Regions from separate parts of the Homo sapiens genome. Here region 2 is linked to region 1. A link means that fine-mapping ties the variant in region 1 to the expression of a gene that starts in the linked region. Tissue or cell type: subcutaneous fat. Region 1 holds a variant in brackets; the other region holds the start of a gene. All regions are shown on one strand. Distances are from middle to middle.

What was found. PIP is the estimated chance that this variant, and not a neighbour inherited with it, causes the effect.
Region 2: SFTPD starts here. The variant in region 1 is fine-mapped to the expression of SFTPD in subcutaneous fat (FUSION, PIP 0.95).

What each region holds. Positions count from the first base shown.
Region 1 is chr10:79,974,936-79,981,286 of GRCh38, forward strand. It overlaps a transcript of SFTPD not described here. Among named protein-coding and RNA genes, the nearest start is that of SFTPD, 29 kb to the left of the region's middle. The variant CTCTT/C (reference allele first, on the strand shown) is at 2,892.
Region 2 is chr10:79,946,783-79,952,705 of GRCh38, forward strand. It overlaps SFTPD (surfactant protein D), which reads right to left and starts at 2,323. Exons shown (of 8, transcript NM_003019.5): 1 at 2,284-2,323.

The DNA.
Region 1 (6,351 bases):
TAAAAGTATCCCTTATGGGAAACAAAGGGATGGGCCGAAATAAAGGGGTGGATCTGGCTACTCTGAGTAATTTAAAAGGAAAGGGCTCAAATGTAGCTATAATATTTCCCTGTTGATCTGGGGGGGTGTATTCCAACAGGGAATCACCAAGCCTCTAAATCACTCTCTCATCTAGCTTGCTGAATTCCTGCCTGACTAGAACTAAGAGCAGTCGCTCTAGGTGCTGCTCGAACAGTCACTGGGGCAACTACTTTTTGCCCAGTGTCCTCCGGAAAAGAAAGATCTGGAAGGTCATTTTCTTCAAAATAATAAGGAGGGGGTGCAGAAGGGTAGGGATGAACCTCTCCCTCCTTTGCCACTTTAGCTTCAGCTGGTAAATAAAACTGCTCTGTAACCTCTTCTGTTACTTTGTTATACTCTCCTTCCTCCTCCTCATCAGTGTGAAAAAGTTCCTAGGTGGAATGAACCAGACCCCACACTTGTCCCATTGTTACCCTGATGCTTCCAAGCTCCCCTTCTTACTCACCACGGGGATTGCTTTAAGAGTACTCAGGTGTCCTCCAGCTTAGTTCCACATTCTCCAACTGTTGCTCCGGCGACCCTTCGACCTGGATTTGAGTCCCCATGATGGACACCACTTGCTGAGACCAGCTCAGTCGGGGAGACCCTAACCCAGCGGCACTAGAGGAATTAAACCCACACACACAGAAACAGAATTGTAAAGTGGGAAATCAGGGGTCTCACAGCCTTCAGAGCTGAGAGCCCTGAACAGAGATTTAACCACGTATTTATTAACAGCAAGCCAGTCATTAGCATTGTTTGTATAGATATTCGATTAACTAAAAGTATCCTTTATGGGAAAGGAAGGCATGGGCCCAAATAAAGAGGTGGGTCTGGCTAGTCATCTGCAGCAGGAACATGCCCTTAAAGCACAGATTGCTCATGCTATTGTTTGTGGCTTAAGAATGCCTTTAAGCGGTTTTCCACCCTGGGTGGGCCAGGTGTTCCTTGCCCTCATTCCAGTAAACCCACAACCTTCCAGCGTGGGTGTTATGGTTATCATGAACATGTTACAGTGCTGCAGAGATTTTGTTTATGGCCAGTTTTGGGGCCAGTTTATGGCCAGATTTTGGGGGGCCTGTTCCCAACACAGAAGTGGTGGGCTATACCTTGTGAAACAAGAGTTCTGGATACAGTGGCCTTAAGAAAAACAAGTTTCTCTTTTGGCAAAAGAATCAAAGTGATGGCCTTTGGTTCTGAAAGGAAAGAGTGACTCCAGTAGCATGAGGACTTTAAGATTTGGGGAAACTTGAATTGCCAAAGGCAATAAATGGTGCTGAAAGCTGGAGTTCAGCTGGTTTTGTGGTCCTGGTCAGCCAGCCCAAAGAAGCCTGAGATCCAGGCTTGCACAGTGGATCCTATCCCATCACCTGACAGCCTGTGCAAAAACACATCTGCATGCTCCCAGAAGTCCCTGGCTACTGAGTCAATCATATCTACTGCTCTGGGAAACCACAGAGTTTGGGAGGGTGAGTGATAAAATGGCTGTTGAAGGAAGTCTGGTGCCAGAAGAGTGATGGCACCACCACTGCCACTGCTGCCAGAGTCCAAGTCCAGGCTGGAAAAAAAGGGCTTTTCTCAGTAAAGCCATCTGCACCTAAAGGGAAAAACCCTGAGGATTCAACAAGAGCATAATGAAGCTTTCCACCTCCCCCTTCTGAGAACTGGGGACAAGAAGTCTTCAAAACCAAGTTATGGGACTAGCAGGCCACTTCTAGTTCAAGTGGCATGGGTCATTGGGTGCTGCCTGGCAACCATCCTCTCAGAGTGGGTGATATGGTTTGGCTGTGTCCCCACCCAAATCTCAAGTTGAATTGTATCTCCCAGAATTCCCACATGTTGTGGGAGGGACCCAGGAGGAGGTAATTGAATCATGAGGGCTGGTCTTTCCCATGGTTTTCTCATGATAGTGTATAAGTCTCATGAGATCTGGTGGATTTATCAAGGGTTTCTGCTTTTCCTTCTTCCTCATTTTCTCTTGATGGCAGCCATGTAAGAAGTGCCTTTCTCCTCCCACCATAATTCTGAGGCCTCCCCAGACACGTGGAACTGTAAATCCAATTAAGCCTCTTTTTCTTCCCAGTCTTGCATATGTCTTTATCAGCAGCATGAAAACAGACTAATACAGTGGGGAAGAAACTATAGGTGTGAGACGTGGCCATTTCACCTCTGGAGCCAAACTCAGCTTAGTTCCTGGCTGGGTGCCAAGGATTTATTCTTTAGCAAAAGTCTCTGCAATTAGTGACCCTCAATCAAGATCTTTTTACCCTGTGGAATCCCTCCCAACCACAGGACTCACTGTATTGGTGCTCTGCTCACAAACAAGCCCCAGCTGAAACCTGAGGCCAGAGAGCAACCTACTAGCTGTGAAGAATCCTAGAGTTCCACAGGACATTACTTCTATTAATACTCATAATGTTTCATTTAGTTCAAGCAAGCAGCTTTTCTGATACTCAATCATAAACAAACAACAACAACACACACATACACACACACAGTGCTCACACATGCACAAAGCAACATTGTAATCTATTTGATGTATCTAGTTTCACAGGTAATCAGTCTCATTTACAAATCAATCTGGCTAGTTTTTCTTGTCCTCATGGTAATATAAGGAACTTGTGTTTTTCAGGTATCTGTGGTGAAAGAGCCCTCTTGCCAGCTGGAATTATTTAAATGTAGCAATTTTCATCCAGTCATTGCTTTACAACACAGATGTGATATCCACAGCCTACTAAGGAGTTGTTACAGATTTTTTTCCATTTATACATGAAGTAGGTCTTCAGATTTACTTCTTTTTTTTCCTTTCTTTTCCACCTTTCTTTCTTCCT[CTCTT/C]TCTTTCATTATCTTCAATTTTGAGGAAAGTTTTATTTTTCAGTAAAGAGATCTTGCATGATACCTCACATCTTTCATTTAACCTGTTCTCCAGCACCACCCTTCTCCCAGCTTATTAAGCAGTGCAATCTTTGTCTGAGTTCAAGAATTTCTTGACTTACCCTGACAGTAGCACTCAAGAACAGGTGAGCCTAACCACTTGCAGTCTGTTTACCTTTTCTTTAAAGTGAAAAGGAGGATGTCCCATTTTTTGCCTTTTGGTTTTTATCAGATGATATAGCTTTGCCATAATTTGTAGTTACAGTAGATTAGTTACCATCTGTCCAAGATGCAATGCTGTTTGGTATAATCTATGGGACCTAACATAGGGGTGCAAGGATGGTTCAACACATGCAAATCAACAAATGTAATACATCACAACAATAGTGTGAAGGAAATATCCATGTGATCATCTCAATAGATGCAGAAAAAGTATTTGATAAAATTAAACATTCTTTCATCATAAGAGATATTACATTCATCACAACAAATTAGGCATATGCTGGGTGCAGTGGCTCATGCCTGTAATCCTAGCACTTTGGGAGGCCAACGTGGGTGGATCACTTGAGTTCAGGAGTTCAACACCAGCATGGGCAACATGATGAAACCCCATCTCTACAAAAATTACAAAAATTAGCCAGGTGTGGTGGCACATGCCTGTAGTCTCAGCTACTTGGGAGGCTGAGGTGGGAGGATCACTTGTGCCTGGGAGGTTGAGGCTGCAGTGAGTCAAGATTGTGCCACTGCACTCTAGCCTGGGCAGCAGAGTGACACCCTGTCTCAAAAAAAAAAAAAAAAAAAAAAAAAAGGTATAGAATGAATGTACCTCAACAAAATAAAGGCCTTATATGACAAATCTACAGGTAACATCATTCTCAATGGTGAAATTCTAAAATGTTTTCCTTGAAGATTAGAAACAAGACAAGGATGTACACTCTTGTTACTTCTATTTATCAAAATACTGGAAATCCTAGCCAGCTCAATTAGGCAATAAAAAGAAAGAAAAGGCACCCAAATGAAAGAAAGAAAGAAAGAAAGAAGTAAAATTGTCTGTCTGCAGATTACATTATCTTATATTTAAACCCTAAAGACTCCACCAAAAAACTGTTAGAATAAATAAATTCGGTAAAGTTTCAGGATACAAAACCAAAGTGCAAAAATCGGTTGCAATTTAAATACTATCAACAAACTATCAGAAACAAAAATTAAGAAAACAATCTTAAATAGCATCAAAATGTTAAACTATCTAAAAATATCATGAGAAAACATAAACCAGAAAATAAAAAATAAATAAAATATCTAGGAATAAATTTAACCAAGCAGGTGAATGATCTGTACACTGAAAAACAATAAAACATTGATAAAAAATTGAATCAGGAAGCAGAGCAAGATGGCCAGAGCCCTCCAATGATCATTCCCCATGCCCTGCAGGAACACCAACCTGGACAACTATCCGCACAAAAAAACACCTTCATAAGAACCAAAAATCAGGTGAGCAATCACAGTACATGGTTTTAACGTCATATCAAGGACAGAGGCAGTGAAGAGGGAAGGAAAGAGTCTTGAATTGCCTACACTACCCCCATTCACTGGCAGCATCAAGTGGTATGAGAGAGATCTGTGTACTTGGGAGAGAGAGAGCAAAGTGATTATGGAACTTTGCATTGGAATGCTGTCACAGCAGAAAGCAACACAGGACACAGTTCAGCCAGCACTCACAGAGGAAGCATTTAGACCAGCCCTAGCCAAAGAGGAATTGTCCATTCCAGGGGTCAGAATCTGGATAGACCCACCACCATGGGATGAAGTACTCTGGGATCCTAAATAAACTTGAAAGGCAGTCTAGACACAAGGACTGAAATTCCTGGGCAAGTCCCTATGCTAGCTGGGCTCAGAGCCAGTGGACTTGCTTGAGGTGTAGGTGACCCAGTGAGATATCACCTGGAGTGGCCAAGAAAGTGCTTGCCTCACTCCTCCCCGCCAACTCCAGGCAGTGCAGCTCACAAATGTGGGAGAAAAAAGAGTAAAGGGGACTTTGTCTTGCAACTTGAATACCAGCTCAGCCACAGTAAAATAAAGCACCAAGCAGAGTCCTGAAGCCCCAATTCTAAGCCATAGCTCCCAGATGAAATTTCTAGACTCATCTTGGGCCTGAAGAAAACCCACTGCCCTCAAGGAAAGAAGCCAGTCCTTGCAGAATTCACCCCCTGCTAACTAAAGAGCCCTTGGGCCCTGAATAAACATCAGTGGTAACCAGGCAGTAAGTACCATGGATTTTGGATGAGACTCAGTACCTTGCTGGCATCATGTGCAACCCAGCACATTCCCAGCTCTGGTGGCCACAGGGAGGGACTCCTGCTTGAGGAAAGGAAAGGGAAAAGTAAAAAGGACTTTGTCTTGTAACTTGGGTACCAGCTCAGTCTCGGTAAAATAAAGCATCAAGCAGATTCCTAAAATCCCCAATCCCAGGCCCTAGCTCCGAGATGGCATTTATAGACTCACCCTGAGACAGAAGGTAAATTGCTGCACTGAAGAGAAAAATTCAGTCCTGGCCAGGATTCATCACCTGCTGACTACAGAGCCCTTGAACATTGAATAAACATCAGTGGTAGCCAGGAAATTGTCACCAGAGGCCTTAGGTGGGACCCAGTACTGTGCTGGCTTCAGGTGTGACCCAGCACAATCCCAGCAGTGATGGCTATGGGAGTGCTTGTGTCACCCCTTCCTCAACTCCAGGCACCTCAGCATGGAGAGAAAGACTTTGTCTGTTTGGGAGAAGGTATGGGAAGAGAACAAGAGACTGTCTGGTAATCCAGGGACTTCTCTCAGATTTCACCCAAGACCACTAAGGTGATACTTTTATGGGTCTGCAAGAGTCACAGCATTACTGAGTTTGGGGTTCCCCCTATTGTGTATTTGGCTGCAGTGACCAAATAATTCGATTACGACGCTCATTTCCCTTTGAATACTTGAAAAGCCTTCTCAAGAAGGACAAGTACAAACCAGCCCACACTGAAAAGATTAAATACCTAACTCTTTAATGCCCAGACACTGGCAAATATCCACAAGCATCAAGACCACCAAGGAGAACATGACCTCACCAAACTAAATAAGGCATCAGTGACCAACTCCAGAGTTAGAGAGATATGTGACCTTTTACACAGAGAATTCAAAATAGCTGTTTTAAGAAATCTCAATGAAATCCAAGGTAATACAGAGAGGGAATTCAGAATCCTGTTAAATATATTTAACAAAAAGATTGAAGTAATTTAAAAGAATCGAGCAGAGATTCTGCAGCTGAAAAATTCAATTGACACACTGAAGAATGCATTAGAGTCTCTCAACAGCAGAATTAACCAAGCAGAAGAAAGAATTAGTCAGCTTGAAGACAGGCTATTTGAAAATACACAGGGGAGT
Region 2 (5,923 bases), 28 kb before region 1:
GGGCCTAGAGCAGCAGGAATCCAAAAGCAGTTTAAGGACAAGGAGGGCACAAGGTCTGGATGGAGAGCATGAGTTACCCAGCTGGAACTCTGACATAGGTTGACAGCAGCATCCCCCATTCCCAGGTGCTCATGTCTTCCCTTCTTGTGCCTTCCCTTGGGCACTAAGTTTGGCACAGTGGCTAGGATGTAGCATTCCTCACTGGGGCCATCTGTCACATCAAGAAGGGTTCATTGAGTGCCTCTGGGCAGGACACCCCCCGCCCACTCCCTAGACCATCTCCCTGTCTGTACCACTGAGGCAACTGGCTTAGCTCAGACAAGGCAAGCCTGTTTCTTCTCTCTTGCTGCCTTGCATGGACTAGCACTGGTGCTGATAGTGCTGGTCTGAAAATGCAGCCAGAGTCCTGAGTGCTTAGTAATGTCCTTCCTGAGCGCAGGCTGGGAGTGTGGTGCACATTTGCCTGGCAATTTGCCATTCCTCGAGCAGGTGCTGTCTCTAGAGAAAAGTCCCAGAGGGAACCCAGGTGAAAGTTTTCAGAGACACTAAACTAGCAGTAGGAGAAATCCTGAGACACCTAGAGTTCTTCTAAGACCTGAGAGGGTTTGGAAAAGAAGTATGTGGAGTCTGGGCACGGTCGCTCATGCCTGTAACCCCAGCACTTTGGGAGGCCGAGGCGGGCAGATCACTTGAAGTCAGGAGTTCGAGACCAGCCTGGCCAACATGGCAAAACCCCATCTCTACTAAAAGTATAAAAAATTAGCCAGATGTGGTGGTGCGTGCTGTAATCCCAGCTACTCGGGAGGCTGAGGCAGGAGAATCTCTTGAACCCGGGAGGTGGAGGGTGCAGTGAGCCGAGATCGTGCCACTGCACTCCAGCCTGGGCAAGAGAGTGAGACTCCATCTCAGAAAAAAAAAGAAGTCTTATATGGAAAGAGGACATGCCAGGTAGGCTCAGTCAGGCAGAAAGCTAGTGTTGTGGGTAAGCAAGAGCAACTACCCAACAGGGCACCCATTTACTATCTAAGATGGTCAGGAACTGAGACCAGGATAAGAGCAGGACCTGGGACATTAACTGTTTTGGGTATCTTTTCTCTCAATGAGAAACCGTAAAGTTATGAGAGTGAAAAGAGCTGATCAGATTCGCAGAGGCTAGGAACAAAGCCAGAGGGACTTGTGCAAAGAAAGGGGTCACCAGGCCAACTGGGGTGGTGGCAAGTGGGGGGCTTCCTGCCCAGAGGAGTGCCTTCTTCTTTGACTGCTGGTGATTCTGGGCTGTGGATGACCCCTATTTCTCACTAGCCTCTTTCAATTTTGAAATCACCACTTCCTTGGGTATCCTGGTAGTCTCTAGAAACACCTGGGTGAGCTCACTGCCAGCAGCGGCTACCTTGTTACACCTGTTCTGGCAGAGGCTCAATCATGAGCAGCAAGGGCCAGACCCAGGCCAGAGCAAGGGCATTGTTCTGTGCCCCGCAGCTCCCTCACCCCTCAGGCCCTGTGTCTGATTCTGGGGAAGAATGAAAGGCAATAGGCATTCTGTCTACAGGCTCAAGATGGCACAGAAGGCACCAGCAGCCACTGTGGCTTGAAGGACACTTGGAGAGGGCAGACCCGGGTTTTCAGGCCCAGGATTCAGATGAGGCATCTTAGCTGGGGCAGCAGATGGAGTGGGCAGAGTTGTGGTCCCCCTCAACCCCTGCAGTGCCCAGTTTATGCTAAGCTTTCAGAGTACAATTTCATTGAAAAGGCCATCTCCTCTGAACATGGATTGGAAAATCAGAGACCTACTCCAGTAAGTATATTTTTTAAAGTAAAGACCTGAAGCTATGAGAAAAACAGGCTTGCCCTGCTTTTCCACAGGCTGTTGGCACCAGGATGGGTTTAGAACCCCAGCCTGTGAGTGCCTGGGTTTGTCTCTCTTCCACTGTCCTTTCTGAAGAAATCAGTGCAGAAAAGAGCCTAGAGATAAATTAGCATTGCATTTTTCCACCTGAAGCTTCCACACTGTGGCATCCCAGGTCTAGATAGTGTCACACCCACTCTTCCACCCTGTGCACCCCCAGCTCAGAAAGCAAATCCTCCCCTGGGCTGAGGCCACTGAATAAGGGGCAGAAGAGCACCATAAGACCTCCTGTGCTCCCCACCTCCTGCGCCCATGCCTCCTAGACCAGAACAGCTACACAGACCCTCCACACCAATAGGTTGAATTGCCCAGGTCGGCAGAGGGATATTTATAGGATGTGGAGAAAATAAAAAGAAGGCAAGAACAGAGACACTTACAGGTTTCTTTTTGTTAGGCCCCAGGAGCTCCAAGCAAACTAGCCTTTGCTTGGCAGGCACTCACTATTTATGCCTGCCCTGTACCCTGAGCTGCCCAGCCCCAAAAACTCCCTTCAAGAAGTGGGGCAATTTTCTTCTTTATTGACTCACTCACTCTTATCCCCACCTGCGTTCTGGAAACCTGCCACTGATATTCACAATACTATGCACATCCATCACTATAGTTTGCAGAACACTATCAGGCCTTGAACTCATCTGCACCTTTCTCACTGCAGCTCTGTGAATTAAGTGGCATCATCAGTGTCTGTATTTTATAGATGTCTAGAAATCAGGAGTCCAGAGACCAGCAGGTTGCACAATGACCTACAGCGATTGCAAAAGGAACTCACAACTGCAGATCTTAAGAGCCAAGACCTGCTGTGTCCACTTCTCCTCTTCCTTTGTCTCAACAGCACTGCCCAGATATTGGGAAAGAGCTGAGAGCTGCTTGGAATACCTGGGCAGGGGTGGGGCAGGTAGAGTGGCTGCAGAGGCAGCAGCATGTGGGGGCAGCAGCTAGGGAGCTGCCACCTGGAAAGAGTTGCTCTTTTGCATGCTGCTCTAGGCCTCAGAGAGCCCCTGCCTTGCTTGTCTTTTGTGGGATGGATTTCCCTTAGCAGACCTCTGCCTTGCCTTGTTCAGGCTTGTTCTCCCTGCCATCTTAGCTGGTGTTTGTCTTGTGCACTGTTCTTGTAACTAGTTAGGACCCCTGAGCTGATGCTACTTTTATCCAATCTTTTAGTCTGTATGTATTTTTTTTTTTTTTGAGACAGTCTCACTCTGTCACCCAGGCTAGAGTGCCATAATGCATTTATAGCTCACTGCAGCCTCAAACTCCTGGGCTCAAGTGATTGTCCTGCCTCAGCCTCTTTACAGGTGAGCATGATCACACCTGGCTAATTTCTCTTTTTAATTTTTTACAGAGATGGGGTCTCACTCTGTTGCCCACGCTGGTCTCAAACTCCTGGTCTCAAGCAATTCTCCTGCCTCAGCCTACCGAAGTTCTGAGATTACAAGTGTAAGCCATCATACCCAGCACCAATCTGTATCTTTTAAGTGGAACATTTACTCCATTTATTATCAAGGTTAATATTGATATGTGATGTTTTGTTCCTGTCATGATAATTGTTACCCAGTTGCTTTTTAGTCTCAATTATGTAATTGCTTTATATAATCTGTGAGTTTTTCACTTTAATGTGCTTTTATGATGAGGAGTATTGTCCATTCATTTCCATGTTTAGAACTTTAAGCATTTCTTGTAGTGCTGGTCTTGTGGTGACAAATTCCCTTTGCATTTGTTGTATGGGAAAAACTTTATTTCTCCTTCATTTATGCAGCTTAGTTTAGCAGGATACAAAATTCTTGGCTGGCAGGATTTTTGTTTAAGTAGATTAAACATAAGACCCCAATCTCTTCTGGCTTGTAAGGTTTCTGCTAAGAAGTCCATTGTTAGTCTGTTGGGTTTTCCTGTATAGATTAGACATTTCTCTCTTGCTGCTTTTAGGATGTTTTCCTTCACATTGACTTTGGATAGTCTGATGACGATATGCCTTTATGAGGTTTCTCTTGTAAAGCATCTTCCAGGTGTTCTCTGAGCATCTCCTATCTGGATGTCTAATTCTCTAGCAAGACCAGGGAAGTTTTCCTGAATTATTCCCTCAAATAGGTTTTCCAAGCTTTTAATTTTTTTTCTTCTCCCTCAGGAATGTCTATATATTGTATATTTGGTAACTTTATGTAATTCTATATTTTTCAAAGTCTTTGTTCATTTTTAAAAATTTATTTTTTCTGTATTTCTGTCTGACTAGGTTAATTCAAATGACTGGCCTTCAGGCTCTGAAATTATTTCTTCTGCTTGGTCTAGTCTTTTGCTAAAAGTTTCAACTATATTTTATAGTTCCTTCAATAAATTTTTATTTCTAGAAGTTCTATTTGGTTTTTGTTTTTTAATCTCTATCTCTTTTGTAAATTTTTCATTAATATCCTGAATTATTTTTCTGATTTCCTTATGTTAGTTTTCAACTTTCTCTTGTATCTCATTGAGCTTCCTTACAACTCATATCTTAAATTCTTTATTTGTTATTTCAAAATTTTTATATTGGTTAGGATCCATTGCTAGGGAGCTGGTGTGATCCTTTGGGCATGTCAAAATACTGGTTTTTCGTACTTCCAGAGTGCTTATGCTGATTTCTTCTCATCTAGAGAACCCGTTACTTCTTACTTTTGAACTTACTCTCATTTGAATGGGATTTTTTCCCCCTTTGAAGGTGTGACTGTATGTTGTGTGTGATCATTTGGCTTCAATTTTGGGTGCCTTCCGTGGGTCACAGCTCTGTATGAGTTCCTTGGTCATAGATAGCTTTTGTGTGGTGGCTTTATTATGCTGTATAGATAGCTTTTGTGTGGTGGCTTTATTATGCTGATTGTAGTAGCAATGTATTGGGCATATGAGCAGGAATACTACCTTCTGAGGGGCTGGGAATGTGGAAGTCTCTGAAAGTTTATCTCATTCCCCAGCACTATACCCTCTGTCAGCCTGTTTTTTATTTGGTTGTGCAATTCAATCTGCATCCCAATAAAAGCTGGCTGTGGCATAAGCTGATGGGTACTTGGTCTTTGTTTTCTGGGAGGGGATCTCTGTTGTCACAGGCAGTTGGCTGGTCTGTGGATGGCCTGATTCCCTGAAGGGAACACAAAGCTTTGGAGGGGGACACAAAACTGAGGGGCACTAAACGACCAAGCTCACCCTGGGAAACCCCAATTATGAGCAGAAGCAACTGCCTTGATGGGAGTGGAAATGGGAGCTCATGGTGAAAGGCACTGATGTCTCCACCAGAGTGGGAAGGAGTATACCAGCTCCACATCCTGGGAAGGCAGGAAGGCAATCCACTTTCCTAAAACACCCTTGTCCCGGAGCTTGTGACCTTCAGTTCAGATAGACATTGTCCTTCATCTCCAGGCTGCAGTGTGATGGAGGTCTGCAGAAAACACCCGTCCTGTGGCTACCACCAAAATGGCCTTGGGATAGAACCTCTTCCCTCAGCAGCTCTGATATTCATCTGCATTCTGCTATGGGAATGCTGCTGCTCCATATGGGGAGGAGGATAAACTCTGCCCTTCGTGCAAGGCTTGGCCAGCAGGCACCCCATCAATGGGAGTGCAGCTGCCCCCAGGAGCCCTCAAAAGCCATCCCCAGGTGCACTTGTGCCAGCTCCCAGTAGGGACAGCCAACGGTCTATCTGGAGCATTGAGTGAGGGGGTAGGAGAAGACTCCCTTTCCATGTTTATTCCCAGGCACCAGTGTCACCTGCCTACTGGTGCAGAACCACACTCCTCCCCTTCAGACCCCAGAACCATGCCTGTGTCTCTGCTGGGAGGGGCACAGCCAGCCTCTTCTCACACGTGGGGAGCTCTTAGGCAGAGGAGAGCAAATGAACTGGTTTCTTTTATCCAAAGGAGTACGTTGGCACAGACACTCTCCCTTCTCCTAAGAGCTAGACTTCTAGGAATTCCATAGCTCCCCAGGGTCCCACCCGTCCCCTGTGGTTGCTGCAGTCTAAGTGGGTTCTGGGGAATGTTCATGGAGGATCTAGTGATGCAG